4 separate regions of the Homo sapiens genome follow, and all the other regions are linked to region 4. The links come from fine-mapping of genetic effects on gene expression. A gene starts in region 4. Each other region holds a variant in brackets. All regions are shown on one strand. Distances are from middle to middle.

The links.
Region 1: its variant is fine-mapped to the expression of ZNF155 in whole blood (INTERVAL, PIP above 0.99).
Region 2: its variant is fine-mapped to the expression of ZNF155 in whole blood (INTERVAL, PIP 0.92).
Region 3: its variant is fine-mapped to the expression of ZNF155 in vagina (GTEx, PIP 0.98).

The regions. Positions count from the first base shown.
Region 1 is chr19:44,034,729-44,040,808 of GRCh38, forward strand. No RefSeq gene overlaps it. Among named protein-coding and RNA genes, the nearest start is that of ZNF222, 12 kb to the left of the region's middle. The variant C/T (reference allele first, on the strand shown) is at 3,052.
Region 2 is chr19:44,202,403-44,208,482 of GRCh38, forward strand. It overlaps a transcript of ZNF227 not described here. Among named protein-coding and RNA genes, the nearest start is that of ZNF227, 7.1 kb to the right of the region's middle. RefSeq lists enhancers at 5,267-5,366, 5,377-5,426. The variant T/G (reference allele first, on the strand shown) is at 3,509.
Region 3 is chr19:44,315,378-44,321,457 of GRCh38, forward strand. No RefSeq gene overlaps it. Among named protein-coding and RNA genes, the nearest start is that of ZNF235, 13 kb to the left of the region's middle. The variant T/TTTAAATTAAATTAAA (reference allele first, on the strand shown) is at 2,830.
Region 4 is chr19:43,980,783-43,986,862 of GRCh38, forward strand. ZNF155 (zinc finger protein 155) reads left to right here and starts at 3,406. Exons shown (of 5, transcript NM_198089.3): 1 at 3,406-3,463. It also overlaps a transcript of ZNF221 not described here. RefSeq lists a silencer at 3,103-3,302.

The sequences.
Region 1 (6,080 bases), 54 kb after region 4:
CATGAAGAAATCTTGTCCAGCAGTCCTGTCAGCTCACATGTCTACCCCTCAGGGAGAGAAAGGCCCCCCATGTCCCATGATCCTAGACAAATCCCCAAAGAATATGCCACCAACCACAGGTTCCTGGGCTCTGCAATAGAAATTGAAATGAGACTGAAAGGGTTTTCCCAGACAAGCCTTCACTGGAGCTTATGCCTGGACATAAGGAAGGCGGCACAAGAGAGAATTTCCTGACTCCCTTCAAAGAGCTCATAGGATTGTTTATTTGGCAAAGCGTGGGAATTAACATCAGGGATAGGGTTTGAAGGCTGGGCTGGGAAAAGCACATGACTGGTAGGGCATGCAGGTCAGCATTACCTGGTTGCAATGCTTATCTTGTGTACTGGGCCACCTGGTGGTCTGGGTGGTGGCAACAAGGCTGTAAATCAATTGTTTAGCATTTCATCCTGAAGGGAGACACTCTACAACTTTGGTTATCACCCAAGGCCAGTTCCTGGAATTCTTAGCAGTGAGGTAGAGGTGTGGGTTTTGTGATCATTGGGAATGCATGAAAGAACGCTCTAGTCGGGGTGAACTGAAGCCAAGCCCTGTCTCTACTCTGTCAATAGAACTCAGAAGAGTTCTACTGCAAGTGAAGAAAAGGGTGACTGGAATCACCTAACAGAGTCACAGCCCCAAAATCAAATCCAAGACATGTCCAGTTTACAAATCCACATTCATTTACATGAAAGGGAGGCCAATACTGGATGAGAATAGATCCTACCACATTTCAGAGTTCTCCACAGGAAACTATGGCCATGAACCTGTGTGACTATGTACTCAAAAGGAGAAATAATCACTCTTTTTGACAATGACTGAATCCTTATTGTCAAATGGCACATTAATGTGATGATTGGACCTGGTGAGAAAAAAGTAGAAAGTAATCTAGACATGTTTGTAAGACACATGCATATCAGAAGGACAGAATAAGTCCTATAAATATTCATAGGACTTCCACCTCAGTGAAATTTCCATGAGTTCACTGATGCAAAACTATTGAGATATTCCTTCTAGGACAAGCGTGGTGGTCATGCCTGTAATCCCAGCACTTTGGGAGGCCAAGGCGGGAGATCACTTGAGGTAAGGAGTTTAAGACCAGCCTGGCCAACATGATGAAACCCCATCTTTACTAAAAATACAAAAATTAACTGGGCATGGTGGTGGGTGCCAGTAATCCCAGCTCTTTGGGAACCTGAGAAAGGAGAATCACTTGAACCCAAGAGGCGGAGATTGCAGTGAGCCAAGATTGCACCACTGCACTCCGGTCTCGGTGACAGAGTGAGACTGTCTCAAAAAAATAAATAAAGATATTCTTTCTAATCTAAGGTGTAGGGCAAGTAGCATGTGATGCTTCCTAAAACCAAAAAAAGTGTCCCAATGCCCAGTGGCCCTGCTCAGCTGTTGGAGGCTACTTATTCTTCACTGTGGTGTACTACTCTGCTTTTTATGAGTGACCTGAAATCATTTTGCCTCAGTTGAGACAAGGTTGTGCAATATGTGCCAGCTGTCATATAAGCTTCTCTTCCACTAGGGTCCTATGATCCAGGAGACCCACAAGTGACTGAAATATCAGAAACAGATAGTGATGTTTGGAGAGAGTGGCTGGCCACAACTGATGAATCAAAGCACAAACACATAGAATTTTGTAGCGAAGCCCTGAAATCCTCTACGTATGTTTACTCTCTCTCTCTCTTTTTTTTTTTTTTGTACAGATGGGGTCTCACTTTGTTGCCCAGGCTGGTCTTGAACTCCTGGCATCAAGCAGTCCTCCCACTTAGTAAAGACAGAGCACTTAACCATGGGCTACCAAATTAGCATGTGAGCCAAGGTTTCCATTATGAATTGGGTGTAGTTGGCCACTCCATATCTTTAAATTGTATGTGCACATTGGTATTCCACTTGGAAGTGGTATATATGAGATTGGGTTGGAGCGGGTCCTGAAGCCACAGGTAAGTGCCCCTAAGGCCCATTGTTCCTACTCCTGCTACAGTACCATCAGAATGAGTGAACATGAAGATAAGTCATAGGAAATTATTGTGTCTCAGAAGCAAAAAAAAAAAAAAAAAGAAAAAGAAATGAGTAAAAATACACAAAACCCAAGGCACCATATATGCATTATAGGTGTCCTAGGAGGAGACAGAAAAAGTCAAAGAGAGCTTTACAGAAATAAAGGCTGAAAACTTCTCAAATATGAAGAACACATTATTCTGTAAATCCAAGCTCAATGAATTTCACATAAGATAAAATCAAAGAGACCCAATTGAGACATATTGTTAAAAATTATTGGAGGACAAAGACAAATGAAAATTTTGACAGCAGCAAGTCCAAAATGACTTGTCATGTACAAAGAATCTTCAATAAGATGTCAGCAGATTTTCAGCAAACATCTGAAGACAGATGATGTATTCTCTGCTGAAAAAACCAAAAACACACAGTTGTCTACTGAGAAATCAATATTCAGCAAAACTATCCTTCAAACATGAGAGATAAATTAATACTTTTCTAAAGAAACAAAAGCCAAGAGAGTCCATTACCGGAAGACAATTTATATGAGAAGTTATAAAGGGATGCCATCAAGTTGAAGTGAAAGGATGCTAGACAGCAACTTGAAACCATATGAAAACATAAATATCTAAAGTAAATAAAATTACATGAATGATGTAAAACTCACTATTTTTGTAATTTGAGTTTTTACTCCACTTTTTATTTTGTACACTATGTAATAGGAAAATGCATTAAAATGATTGTAAATCTATGTGAATGGGTACACAATATGTATAGTTGCAATACATGATACCAGTCACATAACATGAAGGGAAGCAGAAGTTGTGAAGGAGTAGCGTTTTTGCATGTGACTGAAGTTAAGTTGGTATCAATTTTAAATAGATGGTTATAACTTTAGACCATAGCATGTAGAATGTTATGTTTCTTCAAATAAAGAACATATCAGTGAGACACACAAAGGGAAATGAGAAGAGTTTCAAAATGTATCACTACAGAAAAAGGACTCAA[C/T]ATAAAGGAAGGCAGTAATGGAGGAAATTAGGGGCAAAAGGCAGTAAGACATTTAAAAAATAACAAAATGGTAAGACCTTTCCTACAAATAATGAGTTTAGTGTAAATGAGTGAAACTCCTCAACCAAAAGATGTTCACTGGCAAAACCATTGAAAAAAACAGTATCCAAGTGTATGCTCTGCACAAGGGATATGCTTAAATCTAATGATGTGCATAGATTGAAACGGAAAGGATGGAAAAAGTTATTCCATATAAATAGTAATAAAAAGAGAGCAACGGTGGCTTTACTAAGGGCTAAATTAGACTTTAAGTGAAAAATTGTTAGAAGAGACCAAGAAGAACATTATATATTACTAAAAGGATGATTTCACCAAGAAGATATAACAATTATAAACATATGTGCACCAAACATCAGAGCTCCTAATTATATGAAGCAAATACAGAATTGAAGAGAGAAGTAGCTACCCAATAATACAGTTGACTGTGAGCCACATGGATTTGAACTGCATAGGTACACTTACGTGTGAACTTTTTTCAACCAAACTCAGATTGAAAATACAATATTCATGGGATGTGAAACCCACATATATGAAGGGCCAAATTTTTATATACATTGGTTCTACAGGGCTGACCGCAAGACTTGAGTATGTATGCATTTTGATATACCCACATATACTAAGGGTCAACTGTACTAGGACACTTCATACCTCACTTGCAAATAGCCAGACCAAAGATATGTAAGAAAAACAAACAAACAAAGATAAGTAAGGAAATAGAGGATTTGAAGAATATTATACACAAAATTGACCTAAAACACATATACGGAATAACCCACACAACAACAACAGAATATACATTTTCTCATTTGCACATGGAATATTCTCCAGGATAGCTATATATTAGGCCACGAATCAAGTGTTAATAAATTTTAAATTTTAATATAATAAAATACATTTTTTCCAATTACAATCTAGATCACAAAAACTAGAAATGATAGCAGCAAGAAAAGTGAAAATTCACAAGTATGTGGAGACTAAACACATTCTTAAATAACCTATATGTCAGAGTAAATTAGAAGTGAACTTAAAAAATATATGGAGACCATTGAAATTAAAAACAACGTGCCAAAATTTATTGGATGAGGTAAAAGCAGTAGTAGGTGGGAAATTTGTACCTGTAAATGCTTATATTAAAGAAAGAAATATCTTAAATTCACAACCTAATTTTATATTCATGAACTACAAAAAGGCAAAGAATTTGAACCAGAAAGCTAGTAGAAGGAAAGAAAGAATACCGATTAATGCAATGACAAATGGAGAATAGAAAAACAGAAAATTAACCAAACCAAGAGTTGGTTATTCCAGAAGATTAAGAAACTTGAGAAACCTATAGTTAGATTGACTAAAAAATAGAGAAGCCTCAAGAAGCAAAATTTACACACAAAAATATGAACTTTACTGCAAATTTTAGAGAAATAAAAATGATTATAACAGAGCACTATCTTTAATTGTATGCCAACAAATTGTACAACCTAGATAAAATAGACAAATCTCTTAAAACATATACCCTACCAAAAATGAATCATGAAGACAGAAAATCTGAGTAGATCCTTAACTAGTAAGGAGATTGAATCAGTAACCCAGTGCCTCCCAACAAAGAAAGCCCAAAATTAGGTGGCTCCACTGGTTAATTCTTGCATTTAAAAAAAAAATTATTTTTATTTTTAGTAACCCTTATTTTACTTAGTAAGAATTATTCCAAACATTTAAGGAACACTTAACACCATAACTCCTCAACCTCTTCCCAAATAGGCAAGAGGAGGGAACACTTCCTAGTTCCTTCTCTGAGGCCAGGATTACCATGGTACCAAACCAGACAAAGACATTGCATGAAAATTATACATCAACATCCCATATGAATACTGATGCAAGACTCTACCATAAAATACCAGCAAAATTCAGCAGCATATTAAAAGGATTATACTCAATGACCAAACATTTATTCCTGGAATGCAAATATAATTTATGACTCAACATACAAATATTAATGTATTATGCTGCATGAACAGATTGAAAGATATAAAAATATAATCCACATGATCATGTCAGTGAATGCAGAAAATTCATTTAACAAAATTCACACTTTCATGATTAAAATACCACTCAACTAAAAAGAAAAGAAACTATCTCAACAAAATAAAGGCTAGATGTGGAAAATTTCAAGAGCTTATTTTCTTATTCAATAGTGAAGGACTGCAAGCTCTTTTTCTAATATCAGGAACACAATGAATTTGCTCCACTTTTCCACCTCTAGTCAACATAGTATTGGAAGTTCTAGGCAGAACAATTAGGTAGAAAAAGGAAATAAACCTGTTAAAATTGGAAACACATAAAACTGTGTCTACATGCTGATGACATGTTCTTATAAGTTCTACAGAATACACAAGAAAAAAACCTCTTAGAGCTAACAAAGTCAAAAAGTTGCTGGAAAAATACCTGTATAGAAGAAGTAGTTTGTATTTCTGCACAAAAAAACAATCTGAAAGGAAAATACTTATCTTGACAATAGCATCAAAAAGAAACAATTACTTAGGAACTGTCATAACCAAGGACAAGAGAAGCACTTGAACACTGAGCTCTGAAACATATTACTGAAGGAAATTAAAAGAGGCACAAATAAATGGAGATATATCCATTATTAATGAGTTGAGAGATAAATTACAAGGCAGTAAATACCACCTAAAATGGTCTACAGATTCACTGCAATCCTTAACGTAATCACAATGATTTTTTTTCAGAAATGGAAAAATCCACCCAAGATTCATGTGAAATATCAAGGGATGCTCTCTTCCATGGTCATAACCTAAACATTGTCATTTCCTAGAAAATACTCTTCGGTAATAATTTGCAGCACTAGTCCGCAACAACTTTCATCTGTATTGCCACCTGAGTCCCATCAGCATACTTGCATCGATAATCTTAGTACCTCGCCAATACCTACAATCCACTGAGGCTATCACCTTTTTGCT
Region 2 (6,080 bases), 220 kb after region 4:
AACAATGGGCCAAAGTATCTGAATAGACATTTTTCAAAAGAAGACATATAAATGCCCAATAGGCACATGAAAAGATGGTCAATGTCATAAGTCATTAGGGAAACGGAAATCAAAACAACAATGAGATATTGCTTAGCCACCAGATTGGCTACAGTAAAAAAGACAGATAATAAAAGGGTTGCCAAGGGAGTGGAGAAATTGGAACCCTCATACATTGTTGGTGGGAATGTAAAATGGTGCAATTTATTTGGCAAACAGTCTGGCAGTTTCCCAAGGGTTTAAACATAGAGTTATTATATGACTCAGCATTCCACTCCTAGATATACAACCAAGAGAAATTAAAACTTATGCCTACACATAAGCTTGTACATAAATGTTCAAAACAACATTATTAATAATAGCCAAAAGTAGAAACAATCCAAAATAGCCATTAATGAATAAATAAGATGTGATGTATTCATCCAATGGCACATTATGTAGCCATGAAAAGAAATGAATAACTGGTTCATGCACCAACATGGATGACCCTTCAACATGTTATGCTAAGTAAAGTTCGTTTCAAAAGACCACGTATTGTGTGAGTACACTGACAGAAAATGTTCAAAATATGTACATCTACAGAAAGTAGATTAGTGATTGCCTAGGGCTGAGGAGTTTGGGAAAAATTGGAAGTGACTGTTAATGGGTATCAGGTATCTTTTTGAGATTATGTAAATGTCCTAAAAATTGATTGCAGTGATAGTTGCACAACTCTCTGGATATAATAAAATTCATTTAACTGTGCTCTTTAAATGGGTAAACTGTATCCATTATATCTCAATAAAGTTTCTATAAGAAATATCAAAAAATAGCTCTCCCTCTCCCTCTCCCTCTCCCTCTCTCCCTCTCTTCCCTCCCCCTCTCCCCCCTCCCTCTCCCCTCCCCCTCTCCCCCTCTCCCTCTCCCCTTTGCACGGTCTCCCTCCCATGCCGAGCTGATACGAGGCTGGACTGTACTGCCGCCATCTCTGCTCACTGCAACTTCCCTGCCTGATTCTCCTGCCTCAGCCTGCCGAGTGCCTGGGATTGCAGGCGTGCGCCGCCACGCCTGACTGGTTTTTGTATTTTTTGGTGGAGACGGGGTTTCCCCCTGTTGGCCCCCCTGGTCTCCAGCTCCTGACCACGAGTGATCTGCCAGCCTCGGCCTCCCGAGGTGCTGGGATTGCAGACGGAGTCTCGCTCACTCAGTGCTCAATGTTGCCCAGGCTGGAGTGCAGTGGCGTGATCTTGGCTCGCTACAACCTCCACCTCCCAGCCACCTGCCTTGGCCTCCCAAAGTGCCGAGATTGCAGCCTCTGCCTGGCCGCCACCCCATCTAGGAAGTGAGGAGCGTCTCTGCCTGGCCGCCCATTGTCTGGGATGTGAGGAGCCTCTCTGCCCGGCTGCCCAGTCTAGGAAGTGAGGAGCGCCTCTTCCCTGCCGTCATCCCGTCTAGGAAGTGAGGAGTGTCTCTGCCGGGCCGCCCATCATCTGGGGTGTGGGGAGCGCCTCTGCCCCGCCGCCCCGTCTGGGATGTGAGGAGCGCCTCTGCCCGGCTGCGACCCCGTCTGGGAACTGAGGAGTGTCTCTGCCCCGCTGCCACCCTGTCTGGGAGGTGAGGAGCGTCTCTGACCCGCCATCCCGTCTGAGAAGTGAGGAGCCCCTCCGCCCGGCAGCCGCCCCATCTGGGAAGTGAGGAGCCTCTCCGCCCGGCAGCCGCCCTGTCTGGGAAGTGAGGAGCATCTCCGCCCGGCAGCCACCCCGTCCGGGAGGTGGGGGGCAGCCCCCGCCCGGCCAGCCACCCTGTCCGGGAGGTGGGGGGGGCGCCTCTGCCCCGCCGCCCCGTCTGGGAAGTGAGGAGCCCCTCTGCCCGGCCGCCACCCCGTCTGGGAGGTGTACCCAACAGCTCATTGAGAACGGGCCATGATGACGATGGCGGTTTTGTTGAATAGAAAGGGGGGAAGTGTGGGGAAAAGAAAGAGAGATCGGGTTGTTACTGTGTCTGTGTGGAAAGAAGTAGACATAGGAGACTCCATTTTGTTCTGTACTAAGAAAAATTCTTCTGCCTTGGGATGCTGTTAATCTATAACCTTGCCCCCAACCCCCTGCTCTCTGAAACATGTGCTGTGTCCACTAAGGGTTAAATGGATTAAGGGCAGTGCAAGATGTGCTTTGTGAAACAGATGCTTGAAGGCAGCATGCTCGTTAAGAGTCATCACCACTCCCTAATCTCAAGTACCCAGGGACACAAACACTGCGGAAGGCGGCAGGGCCCTCTGCCTAGGAAAACCAGAGACCTTTGTTCACATGTTTATCTGCTGACCTTCCCTCCACTATTGTCCTATGACCCTGCCAAATCCCCCTCTCGGAGAAACACCCAAGAATGATCAATAAATACTAAAAAAAAATAAAAATAAAAATAAATAAATTAAAAAAATTTAATAAAAAACAATCAATACATCAAAAAAAGAAATATCAAAAAATACCAAATAGTAGGTATTGCTGTGTCTCAAATGCATAAGGTATTAATATTCGTGGTATATAATCCAAGTGAACAAGGAAAATATAGCACCCATAACAGAAGAAAAGGGCATAAATATACAGTTTACAGAATAGGCTGTAAAGTATTTTGAAGAAATGCTCAAACTTATTAAAAATCAGAGAAATTTGATTAAAACAGTGAAATACCAGTATGTGTTTAATGGAGTGGCAAGACATAGGATGATGGTTCATGGCAAATGATGGTATGGAAATGGGTGGTTATACAACAAACTGTATTCAGTGCTCATGAGAATGTGGAATGGTTTAACCATTCAGGAGAGCAATATAGCTATTAATATTATTTGTAAATGTGTAAGTATATGACTCTGCTATGAACCAACAACTACACTTATGGATATGTGTCCTAAATAAATTGTCACACATTTCTATGAAGATGTATAGTGATGTTCCTAGCATTGTTATTGCCAATGGCAATCCAGGTTTCTGTCATGGAATAGTAAAATATTTTGGGTGTAAACAATTAGTTCTATAAAATAGGTTAATGTATGCTAGAAACATGGATGAATCTTTAAAACATACTGCTGAGTTTTGAAAGTCTTAACATTTATTTTTATGACATAATACCACTTATATAAACTAAAAGTGTGCACACACAACCACATCACATGCACTTTGCACAAAACACACACAAAGAGAAACACAACAAACAAAATATGGGGCTGGGGGAGGAAATGAAAGTGTTCCATAGGGAAAAGAAAGGAATAAATAAATAATAAAATTATTTTGACCAAGTTGCTAGATATAAGCTTCAGTACAATTTGATTAGAAGTGGTGATATTCAGCATTTTCTTCCCATTCTCATTCTCAGAGATAAATTTTCAACATTTTGTTAATTGTTGTGTATGTTCATTTTAGTTTTAAGTGGGAATTTATATTTCTTAAATGTATCATCATAATGTTCCTCATAATATTCTCAATATATTTAGTGA[T/G]GTTCCCTTTTACTTCTGAAACTGGTAATATGTCATTTCTGTCTTTTTTGTTTACTGTCACTGGACTTTGTCAGTTTTATTGTTCTATTTATAGAATGATCATTTTACTTTTTAAGATCCACTCCATTTCGTTTTCTATTTCATGTATTTCCTATTATCTTGATCATTTCTTTCCATCTACCCACTGTGGTTTTGGTATTTGTTTATTGAATTCCTGAGATAAATGTTTTTATTTTTTTGTTCAGCTTTTCTCCTGTTTTAGGACAGATGCTCCTCAACTTACAGTGGGCTCACATTCTGATGAACTTACCTACCGTAAGTTGAAAGTATCCTAAGTCGAAAATGCATTTAATACACCCAATCTACCAAACATCATAGCTTAGGCTAGCCTGCCTTAAAGGTGCTCATGACGTTTATATTAGCCCCCAGTTGGGCAAGGTTTTTTGTTTTGTTTTGTTTTGAGAGGGAGTCTCGCTCTCTCGCCCAGGCTGGAGTGCAATGGCTCGATCTTGGCTCACTGCAACCGCCGCCTCGCAGGTTCAGGTGATTCTCTTGCCTCAGCCTCCAGAGTAGCTGGGACTACAGGTGCGCACCACCACGCCCGACTAATTTTCATAGTTTTAGTAGAGACAGGGTTTTGCCATATTCTCCAGGGTGGTCTCAAACTCCTGACCTCAGGTGATCCAAGGGCAACGTTATCTAGCAAAAAGAAGCTTATTTCATAATAAAGTGTTGAATATCATATAATTTATTGAATAGGTATTGAAAGGGAAAAACAGAAGGGTTGTATAGGTACTGTACTGAATGTGTGTTGCTTTCACACCATCATGAAGTCGAAAAATCTTAAGTGAACCATTGTTAACTCCAGGACCTGTATATGATTTCAAGGCTTTCTATGTTTCCTTCTAATCATGTATTAAAAGCTCTCCTGTTTATCAGTGTTTTTCTCCTTATGAGTCTGTCAATCAATTTTTCTTTATAAAGTTTGCTTTACATTATGTAAGGCTGTTATAGTTGATAGAAAATTTTCATTACTATGAAGTGTTTCTTTGTATATCTTAAAATGTTCTTTTCTTCAAGGACTATTGTACTTTGTCCAATATTAATATATTTTAAAATTAGAGAAAGAATATGAGGCCTAGGACGATAGTCTCTTTCTCCATTAGAATATTTTTGTTTATGTCAGGTACCTGCAAACACTAACAGAAAAGGTTTACTTTAATCTATTTTCAGGTACGAATGTGATTTCAAGTTTTGCTTCAGTCCCCTAGTGAAGATGATCTATTTGCCCTTTATCTTTACTCCTGTAGTGCAGCTCTTTGGGTTTTACTAGGTACCCTTCTCCCGATCCCCAACTTCTTCCCCAAGGCCCTTGAACAACAGAATCGGTAGGTACCACCAAGACAGACACTTCCACTCTAAAATTGCAAATCTTGGCTAAGATTTGCTCTGGCTTTCTAGGATACCCGGAAGCTCAGGTTACTCGGAAGTATTTCCGCTCCAAGGAGCGGAACTATGGCCGGTTTCCCCTGGGGCATTCTGGGAAGTGTAGTCAGGGGCCCGCGTAGCCTGGGGCACTTCCGCTTTTGGATGGCGGAGCTAGGGAATTGTGGGAAGTGATCCGGGGTTTCTCTTTAGTTGCTGGGAAGTTTTTTCGCTCTAGGAGGGCGAAAACAAGTGTTTGGATCCGCTGGGACCCTCCAAGTTTTCTCAGCCTCGTCAGGGAGCAAGCGGGGCCCTGGCCCTCGTCTGGAGGAAGGCTAGAGAAGCTGTGGCCAGCTGGGAGGCTGGAGTTGGGAGCAGTTTGTGTTCTTTCCTCTCGGCTGAGCCTCACGTTTGGAGCAGTTCTTGCGTCCCCGGGTTGGGAGCGTCCTGGATCGGTTGTCGCTTGGTTAGAGGGTCTCCTGGCGTTCCGCAGCCAGCCTCTCCCACCTACTTGCCAGCTCTGCCACTTACTAGTGTTATAACGTTTTGTGAGTTAATCTTAATCTTTCTCTATCCCATTCTCCTCATTCCTGAAGTAGAGTCATTAGTAGGAGGTCCTTGTACTTTTATACGAATTATTCATTAAATGTCCAAAATACCGTTATGTGGTAGGTACCACTTATGTTCTAACAGAGAGACGAAGATAATAGACCTCTCCACACAATGTAGAAAAGAAAGCTGTCTTATTACTGAATAAGGACAACCACTGTATAGTATTGTAGGCAATCTAAAGAAAAATATTATTAAAAAATTCCGCCCTATGTGTACAGTCAAGCAGTTTTAAACTTTTTATACAATTCTACTTTTGACCACTATGTACATCAGTTCTCAAGATTAATGATTTTTCAATAAGAGGACTTGGTCTCATCATTTACTGCAAATTCTTTTATAAATTTATTCTAAATTTACTTGAGAATCCAGTGTTAGTTAACTAACTTTATCGAAAGTAATAAAACTTCTCTTACCTCATCTGCTAGCCGATTTACAGTTTAAAGAGAGGCACCTTGGTTAAACTCTTGCAGTGATAGGGACAGTGGGTTGTTATTTTCTCAGATGTTTATATTCAAAAGGGACAAATCTCAGAACT
Region 3 (6,080 bases), 330 kb after region 4:
AGCTAGACTAAGAACTGTGAGAAATAAGGACAAAATATTAGCCATATCTAAACTGCTATTAATCCCATCTGTTAATTTTTTTTTTGAGATGGAGTCTCACTCTGTCACCAGGCTGGAGTGCAGTGGCGTGATCTCAGTTCACTGCAACCTCCGCCTCCCAGGTTCAAGCGATTCTCCTGCCTCAGCCTCCCTAGTAGCTGGGACTACAGGCACAAGCCACCACACTCAGCTGATTTTTTAATATTTTTAGTAGAGATGGGGTTTCACCATATTGGCCAGGCTGGTCTCAAACTCCTGACCTCGTGATCTGCCTGCCTTGGCCTCCCAAAGTGCTGGGATTACAGGTGTGAGCCACCGTGCCTGGCTCCCATCTGTTAAATTCTTAATGTCAGTCATTGTGTTGAGCTTTCTAGGATTTTAAATTTTTATATAACCATTTTTTAAAAATGGATCTTTTAAATGCCACACTAAGCATAAACTTTTCAAAAACAGAACCAAGTGATTACTTTTAGTTTTCATTTATTTTCTTTAATCAGTTGTTTTAAAGTTTGTGCCCGCTAACTCCAATATCTGGATCATCTGGAAGTCCGTTTCAACTATTAGAATATCATGCTTATGTACAGTTTCTTTTGCCTGCAGTCTTAAGGAATCTACTCATTCCCCAAGTTTGAATGTTTATATTGTCTTTTGTTTTTGTTTTGGCATTTGGCCAATTTTCTGGCAAGCCCCATTAATTTTTGTTGAATGCCAGGTATTTTGTATAAAAAATGGTGTTGACTCTAGATAATGTAATCTTCCTTCAGAGGATCTAAGTTTTCTTCTGGCAGACAGAGGACAGGCATATCACAAACTTTACTCACATGATGTTGTGATCCATTATTTTTGACTTGGAGAATATGAGGATTTTCATTTTCGGCAGGACAATGAGCCAATATAGATAAAATTTAAAACACGTCTATTCACTCAACAACCACACATTTAAATGTTCTATGGAGATGATGAATATAAAGAGATGAAACTTATTTTTCTCTGGTTTTTATTGCATTGTGGTTTAGAAGAGTGAAAAACAGTAAACAGGCCTTCAATAGTAAGAAATTGGTTAAGTAAAAATAACACATTAATACACAAGAATACCATGCAGGCATTAAAAATTAGGTTGTAGGTCATTTAAATTTTTTTCTCAGTTTATTGTTTTGTTTCTTATTTTTATGATAATTTAATACATTTATGTAATTTGTAAAAATCAAATCAGTGTACTTGGAATATCCATCACCTGAAATATGTGTCCTTTCTTTATGCTAGCACCATTCTAATGCTTCTCTTCTAGCCATTTTGAAATATACAATAGATTACTGTAAACTATAGTCACCCTACTAATCTACTGCTAGGTCTTATTTCTTCTATCAAACCATATTTTTGTACCCATTAATCAACTTCTCTTCATCCCTCCTCCCTACTACCCTTGCCAGCCTCTGGCAACCAGCAATCTACTCTCTATCTTCATGAGATCCACTTTTTTTAGCTTCCATATATAATTGAGAATATGTTATTTGTCCTTCTGTGTTTGGCCTATTTCATTTAATATAATTACTCCCGGTTCCATCCATGTTGCTGCGAAAGATGGTATTTCATTCTTTTTTATGGCTGAAGAATATTCCATTGTGCATATATACAATTCATCCATTAATGGGCAGTTAGGTTGATTTCATATTTTGCCTATTGTCCATAGTGCTGCAATAAACATGAGATTGCAGGTGTCTTTTTGATATATTTTCTTTCTTTGAATATATACCCAGTACTGGAATTGCTGGACTGTATGGTAGTTCTATTTTTAGTTTTTAAAGAAACCTCCATACTATTCTCCATAGTGATTGTACCAACTTACATCCCCACCAACAGTGTACAAGCATTCCCCTTTTGCCACACCCTCACCATCATCCATTATTGCCTGTATTTTTGATAAAAGTAATTTTAACTGGAGTGAGATGAGATCTCACTGTGGTTTTGATTTGGATTTCTCTGATATTGATCATTTTTTTCCTTATACCTGTTGGTCACTTGTATGTCTTCTTTTGAAAACATCTATTCAGATCTGTTGCCCATTAAAAATCTGATTATTTGGCTTTTTTGCTATTGAGTTGTTTGAGCTCCTTATATATTCTGGGTCTTAATCCCTGGTCAGATGGTCAGTTTGCAAATATTTTCTCCCATTCTGTGGGTTGTCTCTTCACTTTTTAAATTGTTTCCCTTGCTCTGCAGAAGATTCTTAGCTTGATGTAATCCAATTTGTTAATTTTCACTTTGGCTGCCTGTGCTTTTGAGGTGCTACTGAAATCTTTGCCCATATCAATGTTGTGAATCATTTCCCCAATGTTTTCTTCTATTAATAGTAGTTTTATAGTTTTAGGTCTTATATTTAAGTCTTTAATCAATTTTGATCTGATTTTTGTGAAGGTGAGATAAGGGTCTAGCTTCATTCTTTTGCATATATTCAGTTTTCCCTGCACTATTAATTGAAGAGACTGACCTTTCTTCCATTGTATGTTCTTGGTGCCTTTGTCAAAGATGAGTTAACTATAAATGCATGGATTTATACTTGAGCTCTCTATTCTTTTCCATTGGTCTATGTGTCTGTTTTTATGCCAGTACTATGCTGTTTCAGTTGCTGTTGTTTTGTAGTATATTTTGAAGTCAGATAGTGTGCTGCCTCCAGCTTTCTTACTTTTGCTCAGAGTTGCCTTTGGCTATATGGCATCTTCTGTGGTTCCATATAAATGTTAGAATTGTTTTTGTCTATTTCAGTGAAGAATGTCATTAGTATTTTCTTTT[T/TTTAAATTAAATTAAA]TTAAATTAAATTAAATTAAATTAAATTAAATTTATCACTATTATTTTTCTTGAGAAGGAGTCTTGCTCTGTCGCCCAGGCTACAGTGCAGTGGCGCAATCTTGGCTCACTGCAAGCTCTGCCTCCCAGGTTCACGCTATTCTCCTGCCTCAGCCTCCCAAGTAGCTGGGACTACAGGTGCCCGCCACCATGCCCGGCTAATTTTTTGCATTTTTTAGTAGAGACAGGGTTTCACCATGTTAGCCAGGATGGTCTCAATCTCCTGACCTCGTGATTGGTCTGCCTTGGCCTCCCAAAGTGCTGGGATTACAGGCATGAGCCACTGTGCCTGGCCTGTCATTAGTATTTTCATAGGAATTTCATTGAATCTGTAAATTGCATTGAGTAATATTGTCATTTTGACAATATTAATTATTCCAATCCATGAGCATGGGCTATCTATTTTTTGTGTCCTTTTCAATTTCTTTCATCAGTGTTTTAGAGTTTTCCTTGGATAGTTCTTTCACTACTTTGGTTAAACTCACTCTTAGGTATTGTATATTCTTTGTAGCTATTGTAAATGGGATTGCTTTCTTGATTTCAGATTGTTCACTGTTGGCATATATAAATAATACTGATTTTTTATGTTTATTTTGTATCCTGCAACATTACTCAATTTTCTTATCAGTTCTAATGGTTTTTGATAGTCTTTAGTATTTTCCATTTTTAATAACATGTCATCTGTCAACAAGACTAATTTGACTTCTTCCTTTCCAATTTGGATGCCCTTTAATTTCTCTGGGAACTGGAGTGCTAAAGTTTTCTCAGTGTTCCTCCCACCTAATTGTTCTATGCAGGATTTCCAGTACTATCTATATTGAATAAAGGTGGTGAGATTAGGCATCCTTGTCTTTTTCAAGATCTTAGAGGAAAGGCCTTCAATTCTTCCCTGTCAGCACAATGTTAGCTGTGGGCTTGTCATATATAACTTTTATTATTCTGAGGTATGTTCCTTCTACACCCAGTTTGATGAGGATTTTTATCATAAAGGGATGTTAAATTATATTGAATGTTTATTTTTAGCATCTATCAAAATAATCAGATGGTTTTTCTTCTTGGTTCTGTTAGTGTGACGTATCACACTTATCAATTTGCATATACTGGATCATCCTTGCATCCTTGGGATGAATCCCATTTGATCATGGTGAATGATCTTTTTAATATGTTGGTGAATGATCTTTTTAATATGTTGCTGAATTCAGTTTGCTAGTATTTTGTTGAAAATTTTTGCATCTATGTTCACCAGTGATAATGTCCTGCAGTTTTTTTTTCCATTGTGTCCTTTTCTGGTTTTGGTATCAGGATACTGTTGGCCCCATAGAATAAATTTGGAATTATTCCCTTCTCTTCAATTTTTGTGAAGAGTTTGAGTAGAATTGGTATTAGTTCTCTAAATGTTTGGTAGAATTTAGCAGTGAAACCATTAGGTCATGAGTTTTTCCTTGATAGGCGACTTTTTATTATGGCTTCAATTTCATTATTTGTTACTGGTTTATCGAGGTTTTCTATTTCTTCATAGTTCAACTGTGGTCGATTGCATGTGTCCAGGAATTTATTCATTACTTCTAGGTTTTCCAAAGTGTATCATTGTTCATCACAGTCTCTAATGATTCTTATTTCTAATGATTCTTATTTTTGTGGTCTCAGTTGTTAAGTCTCCTTTTTCATTTCTGATGTTATTTACTTGGATCTTCTTTCTTTCTTGGTTAGTTTAGCCAAAGGTTTGATGATTTCTGTTTATCTTTTTAAAATCCCAACTTTTCTTTCATTTATCTTCTGTATTCTTCTTTCATTATCAATTTTATTTATTTCTGCTCTGATCTTTATTTATTTTCTTCTACTAATTTTGGATTTGGTTTGTTCTTACTTTTTTAGTTCCTTGAGGTGCATCATTAGGTTGTTATTTGAAATCTTTTTACCTTTTTGATATATGTTTGTTGCTATAAACCTCTAAGTTTTGCTTTGGCTGTATCCCATAGATTTTGCCATGTTGTATTTCTATTTTCTTTGTTTCAAAAAATGTTTAAATTTCCTTCTTAATTTCTTCATTGCCTCACTGGTCATTCAGGAGCATGCTGTTTAATTTCCATGTTGTTTGTGAAGCTTCCAATGTCCTTTTTGTTATTGATTTCTAGTTTAATTATACTGTGGTCAGAAAAGATACTGAATATAATCTCTCTTTTTTTTTTAATTTGTTGAGATTTGTTTTGTGGCCTAAGATATAGTCTATTCTGGACAATGTTCCATGTACTGATGAAAAGAACATCTATTCTGCAGCAATTGGGTGAAATGATCTGTAAATGTCAGTTATGTCTATTAGGTCTAGTGTGTGACCTAACTTCAATGTTTCTTTGTTGATTTTCTGTCTGGATGATCTGTCCATTGCTGAGAGTGGGATGTCAAAGTCTCCTACTATTATTATTTTGCCATATATCTCTTATTTTCGATCTATTAATGTTTGCTTTATAAACTTCGGAGTTCTGGTGTTGAATGCATAGATATTTATAATGGTTATATCATCTTGCTGAATTGACCCATTAATCATTTTATAGTGACCTTATTTGTCTTTTTTACAGTCTTTGATTTGTAGTCTATATTGTATCTTATACAAGTATAGCTACTCCTGCTCTTTTTTCGTTGCCTGTTGCAAGCTATGTCTTTTTCCACCCCTTCACTTTTAGACTATGTGTGTCTTTACAGGTGAAGTGGGTTTCTTGCAGGCAGCATATAGTTGGGTCTTGTTTCTCTATCCATTCAGCCACTTTATGTCTTTTAATCAGAGGATGAGTCAATTTACATTCAGTGTTATTATTGATTAGTAAGGACTTACTACTGCCATTTGTTGCTTGTTTTCTGGTTGTTTTGTAACTCCTCCCTTTCTTTCTTCCTTTCTTACTGTCTTCTTTTTTTGCTTAAATATTTAAGAGTCTTCATTTTTCTGTCTTCCTTTGTGGTTAACAGTATGTTTTAATTTGTTGCTTTTTACTTTTAGTGAATCTATTATAGGTTTTTGTATTGTGTTTACCATAAAGCTTACAAAATACATTTTATAGATATAACAGGTTATTTTAAAGAGATGACAACTTATCTTAGATTACAAGTAATAGAAACAAAGAAAAATGAAAAGAAGAAACACTTCTACACTTAACTCCCATCCGTCCCACCTTTTGATTTTTGGTTGTCTCAATGTACATATTTTTATATTACCTATT
Region 4 (6,080 bases):
CTTATTCCTCATTGAGGCGTGCTACTTTGCCTATTTTGTGTGACCTGAAAACATTTTGACTCATCCAAGATAAGTCTGTGCAATGTGTCCCAGCTGCTATGTAAGTTTCTCTGCCATCAGGACCCTATGACCCAGAAAAGCCAAAAGTGATTAAAATGTTAATGAAAGATAGTGATGGTTGAGCCTTTGGCTGGCCCTAGTTAGTAAATCAGCACTTTACAAGGCTGAGGTGGGAGAATCGCTTGAGCCCAGGACTTCAAGACAAGCCTTGGCAACATAGCAAGACCTTGTTCTAAAAAAAAAAATTGAGGCGAACAGACCAAAAACTCAACATAAAAATGGGTAATAGATTTGAACAATTTACAAAAAGAAAAATAATATTGACACAGGAAATATGCAAAAATGTTCTATGTTATTTAAAAAACAAGAAATATAAATTAAAACTAAATTTAAATACACTTCTTACCATTTGATTGGCAAAACTTTAAAAATGTTGTAATAACACATTTTGTTAGCTAGTTTCAAGGCAAGAGTATATTTATACATTACTTCTGCAAATGGAAATGGTACCAAAAAATTAAGGCAACTTGACAATATGCAACAAAATTTCTATTAATATCTTCACTTTTCAATCCTGCTTTCTGGGATGTACTCTTCTGATGTATCTTCAACAGGGATAATATACAAATGTACAAGTGTATTTATAACAGCATCATTTGTAATAATAAAATATTGGAAGTCACTGAAATGTCCATAAATTGCAGCACTGTTATATAAACCACTCAATGGAATTTATGCAGTTTTAAAAATAAATTACTCCATATGACATGATTTCCAAGATGTTATTATGTGAATATAGAAGAATTAGAAGTGTACTATCCTAACATTTAAGTAAAAAGGAAAAATAAGAAACACATCTATTCTGTTAAAAAAAAGTGGTAATGAAAATAATAAAATTAGTTACATAAAGGTGTTAGGTGGCAACACTGTGGAATTGGTTTAGGGGTAGGAAGGAGGGGAGTGGCACTTCTCTGAGAATAATATGTGGTAGAGCATTGACTCATGGGAACATGTTGATGACTGACATACCCAATAATATAAAATCAAGAATGAGATTTCTTTGTAGATAAACTAGGAAAGTGAAAATCATAGAATAACAAATTAACCTAAATGTATTTCAAATCAATAACATAAACAGTCTAAAGGTGACAGCAAGAAGTAATTTAAGCAACTTATTAAACAGTACAGTGTTTGACTATATATCCTCAGTCTAAAGACAAAAAGAACTATAAAAAATGTTGAACTCTACTTTTGCATTGTTTTTTACAATGATATGAATTAGTAACTCTGACACTGCATGATGCGTATGCAATGGTCTTAATGTTTGTGGCCCACCAAAATCCATATATTGTAATTTTTACCCTCAATGTGATGGTAATAGGAGGTGGGGCCTTTGGAGGGTGATTAGGTCACGGGATGAATACCCTTATAAAAAATGCCAGAAGGAGCTTGTTTGTCACTTCAACCAAATGAAGACACAGCAATATGGTGCTAACTATGAACAAGAAAGTGGCCAACTACCTGACACAAAATCTGCCAGTGCTTTGATCTTGGATCCCAGTTTCCAGATCTGTGAAGAATAGATTTCTGTTGCTTAAAAGCCGGCCGGGCGTGGTCGCTCACGCCTGTAATCCCAGCACTTTGGGAGGCCGAGGTGGGCGGATCACAAGGTCAGATCGAGACCATCCTGGCTAACACGGTGAAACCTCTTCTCTACCAAAAATACAAAAAAATTAGCCGGGCATGGTGGCGAGCACCTGTAGTCCCAGCTACTCGGGAGGCTGAGACAGAAGAATGGCATGAACCTGGGAGGCAGAGCTTGCAGTGAGCCGAGATCGCGCCACTGCACTCTAGCCTGGGCGACAGAGCAAGACTCCGTCTCAAAAATAAAATAAAATAAAATAAAATAAAATAAAATAAAATAAAATAAAATAAAATAAAAGCCAGGCAGGCTATGATATTTTGTGACTAAAAAATATTGGTACTGAGAGGTGGGCTTGCTGCTGCAACAAATACCTAAAAATGTAGCAGTCTTTGGAACTATGTAATGGATAGAGTCTAGAAGAGTTTTTACATGTATGCTAGGAAAAGCCTACATTGCCATGAATGGACTGATAAGGACAATTCTGGTTAGCGCTCAGAAATAGAGAATAAGAACTGTAGAGAAAACATCAATCTTGTTAGAGCATACCTAGGTAGTCATGATCAGAATGTTGGTAGAAATATGGACAGTAAAGGCCATTCTGAAGACCTCAGTCAGAAATGTTGAACATGTTATTGGAAGAGAAGAGAGCTTCTTGTTATAAAGGGACAAAGAATTTGGCTGAATTATATTCAGGTGCTAGTGTTTTATGGAAGGTAGAATTTGTGAATGATATAATTGTTTATCTGAATTAATTTCTAATCAAAGTGTTGAAGTTGCTTGAATCATCTTGACTACCCGTAGTGAAAGGCACGAAGTGAGGAATGACTGAAATAATTATTAATTAAAAGGGAAACAGAACTAAAATTTTTAAAAGTTTACAGCCTATCTACTTTGGAAAAAAAAAAAAACAGGAAACCTGAAGAATACAAGGGTATGGTTAAGCAACTAACTAATTCATGAATTTAGTATGGATTGGCCATGTCAACTGAAGCCAGGACCTATTGTCCAAGACAATGGAAGAATGACCCCAAAGGCATTTCACAGATTATGGCAGCTTCTCCTCCCATCACAGGCCCAGAGTGCAAGGACCTGGGGGACAGAAAGGGCCTTTGATGCCAGATATACCCTAATATATTAGGCACAGTTTCCTGCCTACTACGATTGAGCGTGTCAATAAATTTTTATCTCTTGGGAGGGCAGAACAGAGCAAGGATACAGCTGTAACTGGTTTAGAAATAGCAGTCACTCAATTTTCAGAGAAGTGTTCCTCATACTGTGGTTGGCACAGTCACTTTATCTAAAGAAAACCATGAAAAGTATTCTTTTTTAGTTTAGAAAAATTGATATAGAACATGAGACTCCATTTTTTTAAAATAAAAATATAGGTTGATAGGCCAGAATTCACAGGTCCACCTGCCTGAGCCAAAATTCTCACGCCTCCACAGAGCAAATGGACTCCATTTCCCAAGATACCAGCGAAACGCCTGCGGGAGTCTAATTGCCCGGTCGATGCGCAGGAAATTTGGCTCCCGCAGGCGTTTCGCGAGTAGCTTGGGAGGCGTGGGAATTTTGGCCCAGGCAGGAGGACCTGTGAATTCTGGGAAGTGGAGTCCATTTGCTCTGTGGAGTCGTGGGAACTTTGGCTCAGGCAGGCGGATTCGGGGGATTCTGGGAAGTGTAGTCCAGACGCCTGTGGCATCATCGACACTTCCGGTCTCCGAGCAGGACACTGCTACTTAACAAGGTGGTTTGAGCCAAGTATGTGTCTTGCGGGTCTTTGCGAAAGTGAACCAGTTATTAGGGGCGCCTAACGACCTGGGGGGTCAACTAAGGGGGTAAGAAGCCCTGGAGAAGACCTGAGGTTTGGAGATGCGAGGGGTGGGAGGGAAGTTTCGTTGCCGTCGATGGAGCCTTCTGGCGTTGGGGGCTGTACTCAGGTCCACCGGAGGAGTCGTCGGGGGTTCGGGGGGGGCGGGGAAGAACTCTGTCTAGTCTTGTGTGCCTGTTTAGAGGGTTTTCCAGGTGTTTGACCTCGTTCAGTCCGCCTCCCTCCACTCTTAAGTGTGCGACCTCTTTCTCGCGATATAACGTGGGGTGTTACTTAATCTCCCTGTACCTCCCATTGCCGTTTTTTAAATGAGGATTTCAGGACCATCCTGATAGAATTGTTTTAGGAGTTGAAAGTTGTGGTATAAAACAAAGACTTAACAGCTCCTGTCACTTGGTGTCCTGTTAATTTCCCGCGAAGTGGTCAGGTGCCCGGGTGGGGTCAGAGCTCCAGCTGCTCCGGCCCTTCTCTTGGAGCCCGGCAGGGCTCTGGATGATCCCGGACGCCTCTGACCTCTTTTTAGGAAGGCGTGGGTTGCATCCACGTTTCACGAAGGGAGAGGAGCATTTAACTTGTATCCGGGACGGCGACGCAGAGTGTTTGACAGCTTTCTCCTTCCCCAGCCTGACTTTTCTAAAAGAGCTGCAGGGAGGGACTTGGCTACTGAGGACAAAGCTGTCTACACGAGTGGTCTTTGGCTTTTCTCTTTTTAAAAAAAAGTTATTTATTTTGTTAGTCTGTTTTTATTATTGTTATTATTTGAGAATGAGGTTTGCTCTGTCTCCCAGGCTGGAGTGCAGCAGTGGCGCGATCTTGGCTCACTGCAACCTCCGCCTCCTGGGTTCAAGCGATTCTCTGTCCTCAGCTCCGGAGTAGCTGGGATTACAGGCATGCGTCACCATGCCCGGCTAATTTTTGTATTTTTAGTAGAGACGGGGTTTCACCATGTTGGCCAGGCTGGTCTCGAACCTGTGGTCCTAAGTGATCCGCCTGCCTCGGCCTCCCAAAGTGCTGGAATTACAGGTGTGAGCCACCGCGCCGGGCCGGTTTTTTCTTTTACAGAGATGTTCACCTCAACCAAGAGTGTATAGGATGTGTCCTTGGGCATGGGTGTTGATAATAATTAAACCTTAATTGGTAACTTAATTCTAAGGGCTTTATGGAAATAAATACATTTACGCCACACCATGGCTCTGTGGAAAGGTATTGCTCTTTTTCTTTTTTTTTTTTTTTTTTTTTTCCTGAGACGGAGTCTCGCTCTGTCGCCCAGGCTAGAGTGCAGTGGCGCGATCTGGGCTCAGTGCAATAGGCCGCCTCCCAGGTTCAGGCGATTCTCCTGCTTCAGCCTCCTAAGTAGCTGGGATTACAGGTGCGCACCACCACGCCCAGCTAATTTTTGTATTTTTAGTAAAGATGGGGTTTCACCGTTTTGGTCAGGCTGGTCTGAAACTCCTGACCTCGTGATCCGACCGCCTTGGCCTCCGAAAATGCTGGGATTACAGGCGTGAGCCACCGCGCCCGGTCGCTCTTTTCCATTTTAAATATGGGAGTGAGACACCTGGTGCTTAGTTCCCAGTAGAATGAGGTACAGCTGGAGCTGGAACCTAGGCAGTTTGGGTCAGAGCCTGAGTTGATCATCCCTTGGATACATTTTCATTGAGGTAGAGGAACTAGCTGGAATCAGGTGGGGAAAGAGAGTTAGGACTTGATTGAAGGGACCTTGAGAGCAAGGCTCATAGACTTGGACTTCTGTAGGAGTCTTTTAAAAATTTGTCAACATCCTGTTTCACTTTTTATAAGGATTTTGTATTGTGGAACCATATCATTGTGGAGCATTTTAAAATTAGATTAATAGGAGGAGAAAACATGTTTTAAATTACCCATGAATCCAAGATGTGAAGGTGCTAACTGTCTGATACAAGAGATGGAACTTCCAGTTCTCCTCCGTTTCTTTTTAGTCTTTCTCTGTGTCTATTGTATATTTATTTATAAGCATTTAAAAAAATTGTTATAATATCTTAATGTGTTTTCCCATATTTCTTTAACTATGGAAATTTTTAAATACTGCTAATAGAGAATAAACTAGTAAACTGCCATATTATGTCATGCTCATCCAATATTATTCCCATTTGTGTTTTTTTTTTTTTTTTTTTAGACGGAGTCTCGCTCTGTCACCTAGGCTGGAGTGCAGTGGTGCGATCTCGGCTCACTGTGAGCTCCGCCTCCCGGGTTCACACCATTCTCCTGCCCCAGCCTCCTGAGTAGCTGGGACTACAGGTGCCGGCCACCATGCCCGGCTATTTTTTTGTATATTTAGTAGAGACGAGGTTTCACTGTGTTAGCCAGGATGGTCTCGATCTCCTGACCTTGTGATCCGCCCACCTCGGCCTCCCAAAGTGCTGAGATTACAGGTGTGAGCCACGGCGCCCAGCCCCCATTGTTATCATCCTTATGACTATTTCCTGATAGTTGAAAACCTTTCATTTTTATATCATTTCAAAGCTGTAGAAGAGTTGCAAAAATAGTATAAGGAATTCTCATATACTC